Linked DNA regions of Homo sapiens: region 2 is linked to region 1. A link means that fine-mapping ties the variant in region 1 to the expression of a gene that starts in the linked region. Tissue or cell type: blood mononuclear cells. Region 1 holds a variant in brackets; the other region holds the start of a gene. All regions are shown on one strand. Distances are between the middles of the regions.

Region 1 (5,381 bases):
AATCATTATCATATACTCTCTTAAATCACTTATTATTCACCTTTTATAATCTTTGGAATAAATAATAATTAAAACTTCCATTTTCTTTAAATAAGAAAATAATACTGCTTTATAAATACTCAGTAATACAAACTAACTGACTATTTCCTGAATTTGATAGTGTCTTTTTCAGGATATCCTTCTTGTAATTCAGTAAATAGAAAGGGCCCCCATTAAAAATCACATGGAGAAAGTAGGGTGTAGGGTTGGGACAAACACACCAACGTGACTTGCCTTGTATCTCTTATTTCCCATTTTAGATACTGGTGGGTTAAATTTACTTAATATCAAGTTCAAATGTATGTACAGTCTTAGGACTTGGTTGTTGATTCTTAAGAGTGTGTTGAAAAAATAAAGAAGTCAGCTAGGAGAAGTTGAAAGAACTTAGACTTTGAATTCAGATGCCTGCCTTTGATTCTTCCTTCTGTGATTTTGTGCTCTTTGGCATCTCAAAAACTCAGTTTTCCTACCTTGAGAATGGGGAAAATCCCCACCCTATGAGTTTTTCATAGGCATCAAATGAGACAATCAATTTGAGATTAAGCTATAAATGTAAAGCCTCCTCCAAAATGCTAGCCAGTGTGATTTTTTAATAAGGTCATTATTTTTCTTCCTTTTAGGATTTCTCTCTCCCAAGACCAATAGTACTAACCAATATTCAGGCTTCATTCATGTTTCAGCAGGGCATGGGAATGGTTGTGGGTTTCTTTGAGCTCACTGGCCATTTATTGTTATTGATTAATTAACTCGTGATAAACAGCTGGTGAAAAACCCAGGATAAGGAAATGAGAGTGATGGGGTGGGGTTGGGAATGGTACATAGGAGGAGGCTGGAATGATGAACAGGAAACAGCCATGCAGAACTCTGCTGAAAGAGCCTTCCAGAAAAGGAAACGCAAAAGCTAAGGCTGGGGCAAGTTACCTGTATTAATATAAGATAACATCAAATGGGCTGTCCTTCCAGAGGAGTAACTGAGCTTCCTTTGGTCTACAATGGAATTTCTTCCCATTAGAAAATTTGACCCTTTTTTCTTGCAAAAGATAAGCCAAAGATATGTGAATTGCATGACAGTGATTTAGGATGGAACAATTCCTTATTTGAGGAATGCTTCTTTTTCTATTTTACTTCTGTGCCCACATAGCACCCAGCTTACAACTAGGAGCTTAGTCATAGACAGTTCTCAATGCTGGCTGCACATTAGAATCAAACAGGAAGCTTTTGACACCTCACTATTCCAAGTGTGTTCCTTAGAACACCACTGTTGACATTGCAAAATGCAGAATCTCAGGCACACCCCAGACCCACTCAATTAGAATCTGCATTTTACGAAGATCCCTAGGCAATCTACATGAAAGTTAAAGTTTGAGATGTGCTGTACAATACTGTGCCAAAGATCAAGCTTCACTCCTAGAGCTTCTGATTTATTTGGTCTGGGAAGAAGCCTGCCTTGGCATCATTTTAAAAAAGAAAAAGAAAGCTTGTAATCTCCAACTGATGAGAACGTACAGCAAAACTTGAAGACCACTGACTTGATTGTTCTCACTCACAGGCCCTCAATCACTGATGACTATCAAGCACGTGGAAATGGGATTCATCAATTATTTAAATTGCTTGTTTGAGAGTACCAGTTATGTTTTAAAGTTTTCTGGCTTTTTTTTTTCTTTTCTTTTCTTTTTTTAATCATACTTTAAGTTCTAGGGTACATGTGCACAACGTGCAGGTTTGTTACATATGTATACATGTGCCATGTTTCTGTGCTGACCCCATTAACTAGTTATTTACATTAGGTATATATCCTAATGCTATCCCTCCCTCCTCTGCCCACCCCACAACAGGCCCCGGTGTGTGATGTTCCCCTTCCTGTGTCCATGTGTTCTCATTGTTCAATTCCCACCTATGAGTGAGAACATGTGGTGTTTGGTTTTTTGTCCTTGCAATAGTTTGCTCACAATGATGGTTTCCGGCTTCATCCATGTCCCTACAAAGGACATGAACTCATCGTTTTTCATGGCTGCATAGTATTTCATGGTGTATATGTGCCACATTTTCTTAATCCAGTCTATCATTGTTGGACATTTGGGTTGGTTCCAAGTCTTTGCTATTGTGAATAGTGCCACAATAAACATACGTGTGCATGTGTCTTCATAGCAGCATGATTTAGAATCCTTTGGGTATATACCCAGTAATGCGATGTCTGGGTCAAATGGTATTTCTAGTTCTAGATCCCTGAGGAATCACCACACTGTCTTCCACAATGGTTGAACTAGTTTACAGTCCCACCAACAGTGTAAAAGTGTTCCTATTTCTCCACAGCCTCTCCAGCACCTGTTGTTTCCTGACATTTGAATGATCGCCATTGTAACTGGTGTGAGATGGTATCTCACTGTGGTTTTGATTTGCATTTCTCTGATGGCCAGTGATGATGAGCATTTTGTCATGTGTGTATTGGCTGCATAAATGTCTTCTTTTGAGAAGTGCCTGTTCATAT[C/A]CTTTGCCCACTTTTTGATGGGGTTGTTTGTTTTTTTCTTGTAAATTTGTTTGAGTTCATTGTAGATTCTGGATATTAGCCCTTTGTCAGATGAGTAGATTGCAAAAATTTTCTCCCATTTTGTAGGTTGCCTGTTCACTCTGATGGTAGTTTCTTTTGCTGTGCAGAAGCTCTTTAGTTTAATTAGATCCCATTTGTCAATTTTGGCTTTTGTTGCCATTGCTTTTGGTGTTTTAGACATGAAGTCCTTGCCCATGCCTATGTCCTGAATGGTATTGCCTACCTGGAGGCATCATGCTACCTGACTTCAAACTATACTACAAGGCTACAGTAACCAAAACAGCATGGTACTGGTACCAAAACAGAGATATAGACCAATGGAACAGAACAGAGCCCTCAGAAATAATACCACACATCTACAACCATCTGATCTTTGACAAACCTGACAAAAACAAGAAATGGGGAAAGTATTCCCTATTTAATAAATGGTGCTGGGAAAATTGGCTAGCCATATGTAGAAAGCTGAAACTGGTTTCCTTCCTTATACCTTATACAAAAATTAATTCAAGATGGATTAAAGACTTAAATGTTAGACCTAAAACCATAAAAACCCTAGAAGAAAAGCTAGGCAATACCATTCAGGACATAGGCATGTTTTGTGGCTTTTAATGAATACTCTTAATAATTTGTAAATCTTTCTCTAGAATAGACTTCTAGTTCCCATTAGAACTAGACTAGTGGTTAACATTACTGTTATCACAGATCAGAGACTGGGATGCATGATAAGTTTTCCTTGTCTTCCTTCAGCTCTAACCACACCGACTTTCTCATGTTTGGGGGTGATATTATTTCTCACTGTATTTGCATTGCAATTCTGAAAAATATCTTCCTATCCCACCTCTGTTTTGTTTTCCATGAAGTGAGCAAATTTACCAAGTGATTTGGAAGAAATTTATATAATTGTATAGCTTGAAAAGCCTTTTTTTCCCCTACAAATGTATTATTTAGGACATGTAAAATTTAGCAAACACAGATATTTTAAGCATAATTTACTAAATATTGATGATAACGCATGCTCAGAAGTCTTCATTTAGAGGACTCTCAATTTGTCTGAGTGTAAACTCAATTCCAACAATCAAAATAATTTGATATCTGGTTTTTGCTTTAGCAACTTCACTTGGTTGGCCAATGTTTTAATTCTCCAGTCCTTGATCTCTCATTGTGGTAAACCCACAGGATAATTTTATTAGTGCTTTGATTTTCTGTAAGAGGCTTTTTTGTTTTTCTTTAATTCAGCATATAATTGGTGCATGTTTAAACTTATTTGTGTTTCGGTTGAAAGGCAGTTATTAGTAGAGAGTATCAATAGAGAGTTATTATAGAGAGTATTAGTTATTATTTGCAGAAATGTTAACCTTACTATCTAGAGCAGGATCTTTCTGCCTCAGCACATTGATATTTTGGACTGGATAATTCTTTACTTTAAGGGATTTGTCATGCGTTGTAGAGTGTTTAGCAGTGTCCCTGGTCGATCCCCGGTAGATTCCAATAACAAGCTGCCAATCATGACAATAAAAAATGTCTGAAATATTGCCAAATGTCCCCTAAGGGTGCAAAACTGCCCCCAGTTGAGAATCACTGATCAGTAGAGATGAAAACAGAAAAAGAATCTGTAGGCATTTTGTGACCTAAATAAGACATTCTTATCTCCGTGTTGCTAGCTTTTATTTTGTGGCTGAGTGAATTGTTTTCAGTGTGAAGACCAATGGTACACTGGATTTCTATTTAAAGATGGTTTCAAATATGTAAAATAATTGATAGTTTACAAGCCACCCAAACATATTTCCCCACTTCCTTTTCTGAGTTTAGTTGAGAAAATTTTATATGTAGAAAGCTGAAACTGGATCCTTTCCTTACACCTTATACAAAAATCAATTCAAGATGGGTTAAAGACTTAAACGTTAGACCTAAAACCATAAAAACCCTAGAAGAAAACCTAGGCATTACCATTCAGGACATAGGCATGGGCAAGGACTTCATGTCTAAAACACCAAAAGCAATGGCAACAAAAGCCAAAATTGACAAATGGGATCTAATTAAACTAAAGAGCTTCTGCACAGCAAGAGAAAATACCATCAGAGTGAACAGGCAACCTACAAAACGGGAGAAAATTTTTGCAATCTACTCATCTGACAAAGGGCTAATATCCAGAATCTACAATGAACACAAACAAATTTACAAGAAAAAAACAAACAACCCCATCAACAAGTGGGTGAAGGATATGAACAGACACTTCTCAAAAGAAGACATTTATGCAGCCAAAAGACACATGAAAAAATGCTCATCATCACTGGCCATCAGAGAAATGCAAATCAAAACCACAATGAGATACCATCTCACACCAGTTAGAACGGTGATCATTAAAAAGTCAGGAAACAACAGGTGCTGGAGAGGCTGTGGAGAAATAGGAACACTTTTACACTGTTGGTGGGACTGTAAACTAGTTCAACCATTGTGGAAGTCAGTGTGTTGATTCCTCAGGGATCTAGAACTTGAAATACCATTTGACCCAGCCATTGCATTACTGGGTATATACCCAAAGGATTATAAATCATGCTGTTATAAAGACACATGCACACGTATGTTTATTGCAGCACTATTCACAATAGCAAAGACTTGGAACCAACCCAAATGTCCAACAATGATAGACTGGATTAAGAAAATGTGGCACATATACACCATGAAATACTATGCAGCCATAAAAAACAATGAGTTCATGTCCTTTGTAGGGACATGGATGAAGCTGGAAACCATCATTCTGAGCAAACTATCGCAAGGACAAAAAACCAAACAC
Region 2 (5,381 bases), 280 kb before region 1:
GAAAAAATTAACAAATATAGGCACTATTTTCAATATCAAATGCCCTAATAGAGAAGCAAAGCAAAGTCTTAGAAACCTGCTTTTGAAAGCATATACATTAAAACTATTTATTTCTTGACTACCAATTATAATGCTTCTGAAGCTAGCTGATGAATTGTAAGAAGGATTCTGGGAAGCAATGTAACAAAACCAGCCATTTTTTGAAATTGGTAACCAAAACCCATAGATCTTCCTTAACTGAATTTGGCATAACCTGACAGTTGATCAGAAAGGCCAATGTGAGTTGAGTCTATATAAACAAAGAGAATATATAACAAACAAGAGTTAAATAGAATGCCTTAAATAGGAATGAATGAATCCACCATAAGCCACTATGACTGCAAGGTAAACCTAATAGCAGTCAGGTTGAAAATCAAAATAGTTTTAAAAAAATCCAAAAAAATTCTTACAAAGTCTTTCTAGAAGAACATCAACATCCCCTGCCCCAGGTATTAAAAGCACACATACTTACACTGAGTTTTTAAAAGGAGCCCCAGTCTAATTTGATTAATATTTAAAACAATTTATTCACTGTTCCCAACAATGACACAAGTTTCCAGTTTCCTGGAGGGTCAGGAACACTTGGAAACTAGATGATGAATTAACTGGCATGTGTGTGTTCCAAGCCCTAGGAGTGCTAATAGAAGAATCCCTCTGCTGGTTGGCTCTCCAACACCCATGAGCAAGAATGTATGCCCTTGTGCCTGGGGGCATTCATACTAGCCTATACAGTCATGGCAGGGGTTCATTTGCTACCCCATGGTTATCATATGGGGTTAGAGAAATATATAAATCATCAAATACAATCATCAAGTTGCTCACCCCCCTTGAGTTATAAGTGATTCTGTGAAGTGACTCTGTTAACCATCTACCCCGAATGCCAAACTCCACTGAGGCATAACCATGCAATGAGGCATAACCATGCATTCGTATCCCAGTGGTAGAGACATTAAGTGTTTCCATTACCAGTGATAAATTACAGTTTTGTTACTAAAGAAAGGGCAGACAAGACCCACACACTTTTACTTCTAATGTGACTTGTATGAGGAGGGAAGAAAGCCAATGCCAACAAGCCCCCAAATGTAACTTGGCCTGGGTGTAGTTAGGCAGGGGAGCAAGAGCTCTTTTTAAACACTGTGCCTGTCAGCAGCACACCTGATTGACAGCCGCTGAAAATACTTAAGAAGCTCAGGGTGAGAAGAGATGGACAGCGATGGGGGATGGGAAACTAGAATCGAACTCTGTCTTCAGACAGCAGATAGCTCATTAAAGCTACCGGAAAAAAAATCTCTAAGGGTGCAGTCTGTTCGGCTGCGTTTACAAAAAACGAGTACAGCCAAGACCTGGGAGCCCGACGCCCTTTGTGGAGACAACGAATTCTCCTAATTAGATTTCATGACGTACCTCCTCCAAAATAGCTGAACACCTAGGAACACCAAACACGCTTTTCAAAGAGTCTAAGTAAATTAACTTTTCCCCTGAATATGTCATAGGGAATAAAGGAAGTCTTCCAGAATCAAACTTGGACAATTCTGGTAGATATGCAAGAGGAATGTTCGTGTCCAACATCTGTATTTATAATTTCATTGTATTTTTTCTCCAAAATAAAAGAAATGGTAGAGTCACCTTTACATTTATATAAAATTATCTTCATCCCTAAGTGATAAAAGAGGACACAAACACAAAGTAGACATTTCCAACATTCTGTCTGCTCCCTGCTGAGATGGTTGTAAGTTGCATTGCAAAGCTTAACTGTTACATCAAAAAGCCCTCCAAGAGGGCGAGGCTTTGCGCTTTATAGATTCCAGGGGTCCGACAGCGGGAGAAGCTGCTTTCAGACTCATCTCCTTGCCGGGAAGATTGATTTCCCCAGCGTTCTCCAGCTTCCCAGGACTGTGGCCACCGCGCTGAGACCCGAGGCGTCCCAGAGCGGGACGCGGAGACAGATCGCTTTGTGAGCGCCAATCTCTGCAGCCTCTGGGCTGAAGCTGCGCCCGGCGCCTGCCCCCTACCCGGCCTCACTCACCCCTCCTCCTAGAGCACGTTTCCGCACGTGCTCAGGACCCCTTCCACGGCAAAGGCTCCTCCCCCTCCACTTTCTTAGTAGGTCTCCATCTCCAGCTCATTCATCGGCAGCCACTGCTTTTAGACAGTTTCCTATCTATCCTTCCTTTTTAAAAACAAAAACAGCCGGGACAGGGCGGGGTGGGGGGGCGCGGGGAGAAAAGGCAGGAGATTTAACTCCAACTTCAGAGCAATCGTCCCCGGCTGCCCATCTGACACCAGTGGGTGGGGTGCAATCTGACACTTCCCTTCCTTTCCAGAAACGTGAGTGGAGCTGGCGCGACCCTTGATCTGGGGGTGGGGAGACGGGGGAGAAGGTCCGCACTTCCGTCCTCACGACTTTCTCCCCAGGAGACCCGGTATCAGTGGCGAGCTGCCTTCTCTCCTCGCCGCTTGCAGGTTTGGCGCCTGGAAAACTCTTCACGTTCTGCTTTCTCCTGCTCCTGGCTCCGCCCCAGCTCCAGCCCCGGCATTCCTCCAGCTCTACACGTCCTGGCCGCCCCCTTCCCGCTGCCTCTAGAGCGAGCGTACGGGGTCATCTCCGCGTCTGCCCTGGGCCCAAGGCTGGGCTGCGAATAGCGTGTTCCTCTCCGGCGGAACACACACACCCGGCCTTGGGGCTGTCTCCTGAGCTCCCTCCTCCACGGAGAGCGCTGAGCGCCGCCGGGAATTCCATCCCACCGTGGGCACGCAGTCTTTGGAGGTCCCGGGCGCAGCACGCTCGGTGTCCCCACACTGCAGCAAGACAGAGACCCCGCGGGAACCTTGAGCTTGGAACAACCCTTGAGCCTCTGCAGTCGGAAGAGTGGGCGCAGCAGCCCAGCGGAGGCCAGGCGCGCAACCTCGGGCGCCGGGGCAAGGAGAGAGTGCAGGGAGGCGCAGCTCAGGCGCCCGGCTCAGGAGCGGGAGGAAGTTCTCGCGGCGCCGGGAGCGCGGTGGACGCGCCCTGGGCGCACGCCCAGGCAGCCTTCTCCCTGGCCCTCGGGACTGTCCTCGGGCCGCAAGGAGGAGCTTGCTGGAGTCTTAGAGGCCATCCAGAGCCAGCGAGCAGGAGCGCTGCGTCTCCCGCCTCAGCTAGGAAGGGGGAGTGGCGCTGGCAGGCTGGAGCTGGGAACCCAGCGAGCGCCTGACCTTCCTCCTCCTCTTCCTGACCCTCTTCGCGTCTTGGGCTCCGGAGGAAGGTTCTAGCGGCTGCAGGAGGTCCCCAGACCCATTTTCCTAGAAGGCTGGTGATGGATCTGCTGCTCCTGCCGCCGCCGGGGCACTTGGAGCGCACCGGCGGCGCGTGAGCTGGGCTTTGCTCTCCACTGCCCTGGGCAAACCCCGGGCCAGCCCCGCCTGGCACCTTTGCCTGAGTCCCTTTCGGTTCCCGACCCAAAGCCACCAGCGTCCAGGGAGGGAGGAGGAGGTGGTCCTCAGGTGCAGCCCCGCCGAGATGTCCGCGCAGAGCCTGCTCCACAGCGTCTTCTCCTGTTCCTCGCCCGCTTCAAGTAGCGCGGCCTCGGCCAAGGGCTTCTCCAAGAGGAAGCTGCGCCAGACCCGCAGCCTGGACCCGGCCCTGATCGGCGGCTGCGGGAGCGACGAGGCGGGCGCGGAGGGCAGTGCGCGGGGAGCCACGGCGGGCCGCCTCTACTCCCCATCACTCCCAGCCGAGAGTCTCGGCCCTCGCTTGGCGTCCTCTTCCCGGGGTCCGCCCCCCAGGGCCACCAGGCTACCGCCTCCTGGACCTCTTTGCTCGTCCTTCTCCACACCCAGCACCCCGCAGGAGAAGTCACCATCCGGCAGCTTTCACTTTGACTATGAGGTTCCCCTGGGTCGCGGCGGCCTCAAGAAGAGCATGGCCTGGGACCTGCCTTCTGTCCTGGCCGGGCCAGCCAGTAGCCGAAGCGCTTCCAGCATCCTCTGTTCATCCGGGGGAGGCCCCAATGGCATCTTCGCTTCTCCTAGGAGGTGGCTCCAGCAGAGGAAGTTCCAGTCCCCACCCGACAGTCGCGGGCACCCCTACGTCGTGTGGAAATCCGAGGTAGGGACCAGCGCTGCGCGTCCCACGGCCCAAGGAGGAGGCCCCCAGGCAGTTTCAGGAGACCGCCTTTAATTCCATTACATTTACAGAGCAAGGCACCCACTAAGGGGTTTCCGTGGTGTGGGTTTTCCTCTTCTACTTGCTAAATGGTGCCTGGAAATGGGATGTCCCTAGTGGCCACCCGCTTGTGCGTCTTGTAGGACTTGTTGGCTCTACTTTGGAGCAGTCGTGGGAGCTGGAGAAAGAGATGGTGTTCTGGTTTTCTGTTAGTGCTGCAGGCAATTTCAAAGGGTCACCTTATCCCTTCACCCAATGTTGATATTTTTTCCAACTCAAATATCTATTGCTAAGCTGTTTGTAACGATTGGATGAAATATATTTTGAAATATGTCTGCCATCTTGTTCTGTAGAGAATTCAGAAACATTATTTTGGAGGGTGTCATTGACTGTATGAGTGAGTGTGTGTGTGTGTTTGGGTGGCAGGGGGGACAAGAATTCTCTAGTTTTCACCTTTTCTTTCCCTGAAGGGGCAATTTCAGAAATCTATGGTACTGAGTATTAGTTTAACCTAGGAGAAGAAGAAAATCTCTGTGTAGGGGTGTGAAAGATCATGGAAATATGCTGATGCCTAAATTCCATTTAGAACAATTAGTAGTTTAGTGAAGAATCAACAATACATAGGGGACTCAGAGGGAGCTATCAGATACCCTTAAAATATTTGCTGTCCAGTTAAGAAAAATAGTGAATTGACCTATTGGGAAACTGTCACTGATGGGCGCTTTGAAAATAACACACTTTCAGAGAATAGTAATTGTTTTAAAAATGAACAGCCCCTATCCCCTTCGGTCCACAAACTCTATAGGTTTGCCTTGGATCTGTTTCCATAAGGGAAGGGAGATTCCATCAGTTGTAATTTAATATTTTAAAGTACAGTTAGCATTACAGAAATGAAATGAAATACCATGTAATTGCTGGAGATTTAGGCTAAATACACAACCAAGGAAAACCGTTTGAAAATAGCATCTGAGATCATACTCAGCTGTGTTAATGTGAGATAACTGTTAGACTTTGGCTTTAGTAAACCGCCTTAGAAAAATAAGCATCATTTATCAGAATTATTAGCATCACATATTATTAATGTTAGTTACTGTGTCAAAGTAACTGAGGCTGTTAGGTGTTGGGGGTGCAGATTACAAAAAACTAACAAATTTTGCTAGGTCTTTTGCCCATTTTCTTGAGAAAGATAGGCAGTAGA

The links.
Region 2: it holds the start of ARHGAP6, and the variant in region 1 is fine-mapped to the expression of ARHGAP6 in blood mononuclear cells (TOPMed, PIP above 0.99). The same link has a PIP of 0.9 or more in T cells, monocytes, pancreas and whole blood.

The regions. Positions count from the first base shown.
Region 1 is chrX:11,387,801-11,393,181 of GRCh38, reverse strand. All of the region lies in intron 1 of ARHGAP6 (Rho GTPase activating protein 6), which reads left to right. Among named protein-coding and RNA genes, the nearest start is that of MIR548AX, 72 kb to the right of the region's middle. The variant C/A (reference allele first, on the strand shown) is at 2,528.
Region 2 is chrX:11,662,986-11,668,366 of GRCh38, reverse strand. ARHGAP6 (Rho GTPase activating protein 6) reads left to right here and starts at 2,447. Exons shown (of 13, transcript NM_013427.3): 1 at 2,447-4,126. The coding sequence starts at 3,539.